Regions from separate parts of the Homo sapiens genome. Here region 1 is linked to region 2. Evidence: fine-mapped QTL for protein levels in blood plasma. A gene starts in region 2. The other region holds a variant in brackets. All regions are shown on one strand. Distances are between the middles of the regions.

Region 1 (2,912 bases), 25 kb before region 2:
TGTCTACCTTAAATACACACAATTATTTCAAAATTTAGTTTGAAAAAAGACACGTTTTGAAGAAATAAGATATTGACTGACAGACTTAATCTAGGCCTGATGGGCAGGGAGTATAGCAGGATTCTCTATAAGGATAGAGGCTGGGAGAAGAGGAGGGAACGTTGACAGAAAGATGAGGACAGTTGAGTTGTATATGGATTGTATATATACAACTACAATATATGAGGACATCCATATACACACGTAAAAAAATACAATTGCAATGCCAATGTACTCTCTACATAAAAGTGACACCTTGGGAAATAGACTGGAATGGAATTGAGATTGGATGTCAGGCCTCCTATCTTAATTCTATGCAGGAGGGAAGAATTTTTGAGTCATTGCAAAGAGTAAGAGAGTCAAAGCTTAAAGAAGGGAGCTCTACTCAGAAAAGTACCAAAAGAAATCAAGGGTGGCAAAGAGCCAAGCTTAGGGTAACACTCTCTTAAAGGAAAAAGCAATAATACGAGGGAAGAAAGGAAAATTAGTCAACCCAATATTTCTGCAAACAAATTCTTAGCAACTGCTGTGTACTATGTGCTACACTAGGTTCTGGGAATATAAGATGAAGAAAAAGAGCTCAAAGAGTTTCTGTAGCCAAAGTGTATTACAGAGTGTGGTGAATTCAATCATAATGGCAATATGAACAGAGGAGTCTTCTTGTAGGACAGGGTATGCCATCTGGGAAGGCTTCCTGGAGGGGCTGGTGCTGAGCCGGTTCATTCTGGATGAGTTGCCCAGGAAAAGTGAGGAGTTGGGGAATGAACATGAGAGAAGGCAGGGAAGTATTCACAGCTTGAATTCCAGTGGGCTCTGCTAGCACTTAGTGATACTGAGGGGTCAGGTGTGGAGTGCTCAGTCTGGCCAATGTTTGTTTTGCTTTGTTTTGTTTGTTTTTATTAATATTATGGCTGTCCAACGTTCACCCACAAGTTAACACCCATTGATTCTTTTTTTTTTTTTTTTTTTTTTTGAGACGGAGTCTCGCTCTGTCGCCCAGGCCGGACTGCGGACTGCAGTGGCGCAATCTCGGCTCACTGCAAGCTCCGCTTCCCAGGTTCACGCCATTCTCCTGCCTCAGCCTCCCGAGTAGCTGGGACTACAGGCGCCCACCACCGCGCCCGGCTAATTTTTTGTATTTTTAGTAGAGACGGGGTTTCACCTTGTTGGCCAGGATGGTCTCGATCTCCTGACCTCATGATCCACCCGCCTCGGCCTCCCAAAGT[T/G]CTGGGATTACAGGCGTGAGCCACTGCGCCCGGCTTAACACCCATTGATTCTTGCTTGAATCAGTTATCAATATATTGGTTGCCAAGTGATAGTTTTCTAACTCTATCATTCCTTCCACATTGATTAGTTTTCCCTTCTTCATTTGTTTAATCAGTATTGCCTCATGCATTCTTATTTCTTTCAATGGGCTATTATCCCTTACTGCTATCATTATTTATTTTAATGCTCAAAATTCCCAGACTTGGCAACAGGAGATCCTTCAAATTGGTTCTTGTATGCTTTGAGTGTCCCATCACTGTTTGAGCACTTCAGTGTGTTGTTCTAGGCTCAGCATCTATTTTTCCTGCCCCAGCCCTGAAGTCAGCTATTTTTCCAAGGAGTTCTGGTTCCTTTTAGTAAAGAAGAGTACTTACAAGCCAATATCTTGGTGCTTACTCCTGCTGGTATGCCATTGCCTCTAGGCCTTCTCAATGGACACAACCCAGAAGTACAGTAAATAGCTATAAAAGGCATTACTGGGATAACTGACAACAGTTAAATGTGGACTGTGGACGTGACGAGTATTAAATCCACATAATGTAAAAGATCCTGATCTTGGTAATCATACTGTGGGTATGCAAGAGATTGTCTTATTCTTAGGAAATAGGCACTGAAGTATTTAGGGGAAAGGAGCACAAGGCTTGCAGCTGTGGGAGTGTGTGTTGGGGAGGATTTAGGGCCATTGGGGGCCCCATAATCCTGATCATTCTGCGCACTCAGGTGAACATGTCTCTCTTCACTGAGCAGACAGACTGAGAATCAGAGCTTTGAAGTCTGACAGTGTACATAATACTTCCACAAAGGCATCCCTGAATACAAGTGAATACCAGTGACCAGGATCTAGTGATCTAGGGGGACAGAGGAGCAGGTGCACTTACCCCCAGTGTTCTGTGGGACAGTCTGGTGTTTCACAAAGGCCACATCTCCCTTCTCAACCAGACACCTGCAGAGGTCCAGAAGTGGGAGAGAAAAAAAAAGGCGGTCAGAGTGACTTATCTGTCATTCAGGGGGCTACCTTATAGATTCAGGACAGCCATCTGAAAACAGCAACTGTAACTTCCATTCTAACAGTAAGCAATGTAAGGAATAAAGAGAACAAAAACAAAACACTCTGAATTGATTGTAGTTTTACAATCTCAGTTCCACATACTAAATCTTAATTTTTTGTACTGTTTCTCTGAGAGATGACATAATTTCCCTGACATCAACAAGGATAGTAGGGAATTGATTTTCAGTGAGGTGATGCCTCCCCCAGCATATGAATGAAAAACTCAGTTCCTTCAGGTTCTCATACAAGGCGAATGTCTAGGCAACATTTGTGAGAGACTGAAACTCCATCACAAATTGCAATTTGTGCTGTCCTTCATTCCTTTGAAAAAGAATTTTAACATTTATGGAGCATTTGCTATGTTGTGGGTTTTTTTGTTTTTGTTTTTGAGAAATGCAGAGAATATGGCAAAACATGGCATAAAGGCACCTGACTCTACTAACTCCCAGGCCACATATCTCTGGGTGTGGTAATGGGGGTTGTAACACAGCTCTGAGCTACAAGTCCCCAAGAAGTTTCAGAAAAGAAATAATAACAAAATAAACTCTGGTTAGTAGGG
Region 2 (2,912 bases):
CACAAAAAAAGCTGAAGCCAGCCATGGGTAACTATTAAAATCCATGTGGTTGCAGAGACAGCATCCCTATCACATGAGCTTTTGCCCTGTCCCCAAGGCCCTCTGTCATCTCCACTCCTTGTGGGCCACCACAGCAAGGCTGACTCACTGGCTCTGAAGAAGATCCACAAAGCCTGTGGAGAGGAGGCCCACAGCTCTCCAGGATGCATGAGGAGGGGCCACCAGGGATGGCCACCCCAGCGACCCCCATTTTCCCTCTTGGCCCATGGGAAATCCTAGGAGGCAACATAAGCCTGTGGCAGCCCCTCCACAAAGCCCTGCCTCCAGAGTTCCCATAGGCGAGAATGTGTCCTCAGTGGAGCATTACCTTGCACAGCCTGTGAAGTGCTCTGTGCGGGGATAAAGGCAAGTAACGTGGGGTCCTCTCTCAAGGAATTGCTAGCTTATGGGGAGAGAAAACTAAACGTGGAAGCCCCAACAGTGTGACAAATGCCCCATGAATGGCAGGCAGAAGTTAGAGTATGAAGGGGGCCCCACCTCAGGAGGTCGGGGAGTGTGGCGTCAGCCACTGCCCCATAGCAGGATGTGTGCAACATCTGCCACTGGTACTCAGCATCTGCCACCTCGCTGACCCTCATTTGACCCTCCCAGGCAAGTGCTGTGATGACCCCCTCCCTGGTGAGGAGCCGGCCAGGACTTGGATCCAAGAAGTCTGGCTTCAAACCCCATGCTCTGACCGCTCGATGGCACCGCTTCCTTGGCAGGACATCTACAGCTCCCAGGGCACCCAGGGGACATCAGCCTCTGAAAGGGGAATGGTCAGACCCGGGAGGCCTTGAATGCCATGCTAAGGAGTTCGGACTTGACAAGAGGCAGCAGCAAAGGGTTTTGATAACCTGGTTAGACGTGCTCTGATTTATTGTATTTCACTGCTGCAAGATTTACTGGACAAAGAGGAGGAGGGGGAGAAGACAGTGAGTGCAGTGAAAGGTGTCTAGAAGCCCAAGCAAAGGCCAGGGGTGGGGCGTAGAGAGGCAATGGAAAGGCACCCAGACACCCAGGCTTCCAGCCTGAGCGCGGAGTGCATGCAGGCTGCGCGGTGGCCGCCCGGGTTGCAGGGAACGCGCGGGCCAGCGACTCTGCGGTGCTACCCCGTGCCCGCACTCACCCAGGACGGCGCAGACCAGCAGGGCTCCCACGGCGAGCCTCATCTTCCGGGTGCGGCGCTGAGCAGCGAGCACAGTCGGACTCGCTTCTGTGCAGCCTCCGGCGCCCCGCGTCCCTTTATTCCATTCCCGGCCTGGGCGGGCTGGGCGCAATCTTTGACCTCCCGTGTTTGTGCAGCCGGGTTGCCCAATCGCCCCTCTCCCAACCCCCCTTCCTTACTCGTCCCACTGATCACCTCATTTTCTGAGCTCTGGAGACGACCCGCGAGTGGAAGGAGTCCAGCACAGAAATGTTGATGGGAAGGGACATGAAGCACAATGCAGCCATTGTCATCGCGGCTCGCTCGGTGCCAGGAGCGGCTACGGCGGGCTGGGAGCCGGGGGGCTCTGCTCCTGACTCCAGGGCTGCAGAGCTGGTCCGTGCCACCAGTCCTATCTGCGCAGTCCACAGAGGAAGACTCCGAGGCTGGAGAGGGAAAAGAACTGCGCCCAGACCCCACACTAGAACTGCAGAATGACAGGCAAAGCCCCTTTTGGGGGAGGATGCAGGAGAAACAAGCTGGGCTCAAGGTCAAAGACAGACTCAGCACCTTTTGCTCCCCACCAGGTGTCCCTCGAAATCCTGCTCCTGGGCTCTCAAAGGTCCCCCACGGAGGAGCTGCTCCCTCTTCCTGCCCCGCTGAGCTCAGGCTCCTGGGCTGGAAAACTTCCCGCCCTCAAGCTTCCTGTGGGACACCTTAGACTAGGGACAGAGTCATAGGGGAAGATGAACTCCCTCCAACAAGAAGGTTCCAGGAACATGGTCAAGACACTGTGAGGCTCAGAACAAAGTGTCATCTTAGCACAAAGCAAGCGGCCCAGTGGACGGTGTGGCCTGTTCTTACAGCCTGGGGCCACCATGTCCCCCTCTAGTCGATGAGTCTCCTAACCAGTTTAATTACACATCCTTATCATGAAAAATATTGAACTTGTGCCTTCTATATGCTTATATTTTAACTAAAAAATGTGTACACTTCAATCATGCACAAGGAATAGAAATTTGTAAAAGGATGAGCTAAAGATGAAACTCATTTTCAAATGTCGTTTTGCTTATGCGGCCTTATACAGGATTATTATCTCAAGGCATAATATACTTGGGGAAAGGTCAAGATTCCTTCCACGAAGTGTAAATCCAGACTTCAGAGATTTTGCCAAAAGTTACTTCTTATCCAACCTGACCAGATGGTCATTCATTCTGTCTCATGTTTTAGTTGACCAAGCTCATATCAAGCCTAGTGGACACGTCAGGTCAGTCATTTGATTTTTGTTCACTTGTTTTTGTGTTGTCAGAATTGTCTCCTAATTCTAGTTTCTTTGTAAGAATCTTTTTAAGGCATGTGTGCATCTCGTGAAGGTTGGAGTTAAAGCCAGATTATCTAATCTGTACATCCGTTTAACTGGGCACATACAAACCACAAAGTATGGAAATAAAAATGCCAAAACAAAGGGCAGGGTCGGCACTCCCCTTTTCACCTTTAGCATTGTGAGGTGAACCCCATCTTCCCTTAGGACACCTGAAAGGCTCCATCTGTCATGACTGCAGACTCAGGTGGGAGATAGGGCCAATTCACACATTCAATATGAATGAATGATAATTTGTTAATCTTTTGCAATAACAATAAATATAACTGGAAGTTAGATTATGTTCTCCCACACTCCAAAAGATTATCTCATATGCAAAGGGGTTACATACCTCCCACTTTAGAG

Alleles and levels. Alleles are on the strand shown, and positions count from the first base shown. The strength of an association depends on the size of the effect and on how common the allele is.
For the plasma level of the protein whose gene starts at base 1,259 in region 2, G is the high allele of the variant in region 1 and T is the other (moderate association).

Evidence for each region. PIP is the posterior inclusion probability: the model's chance that the variant is causal. The UK Biobank Pharma Proteomics Project read protein levels with antibody pairs (Olink). The fine-mapping took linkage between variants from a reference panel, not from the people measured, so its PIPs are less certain.
Region 1: its variant is fine-mapped to the plasma level of the TF protein (UK Biobank, PIP above 0.99).

Annotation. Positions count from the first base shown.
Region 1 is chr3:133,769,844-133,772,755 of GRCh38, reverse strand. It overlaps TF (transferrin), which reads right to left. Exons shown (of 17, transcript NM_001063.4): 14 at 2,184-2,248. Among named protein-coding and RNA genes, the nearest start is that of TF, 25 kb to the right of the region's middle. The variant T/G (reference allele first, on the strand shown) is at 1,266.
Region 2 is chr3:133,744,740-133,747,651 of GRCh38, reverse strand. It overlaps TF (transferrin), which reads right to left and starts at 1,259. Exons shown (of 17, transcript NM_001063.4): 1 at 1,169-1,259. The coding sequence starts at 1,211.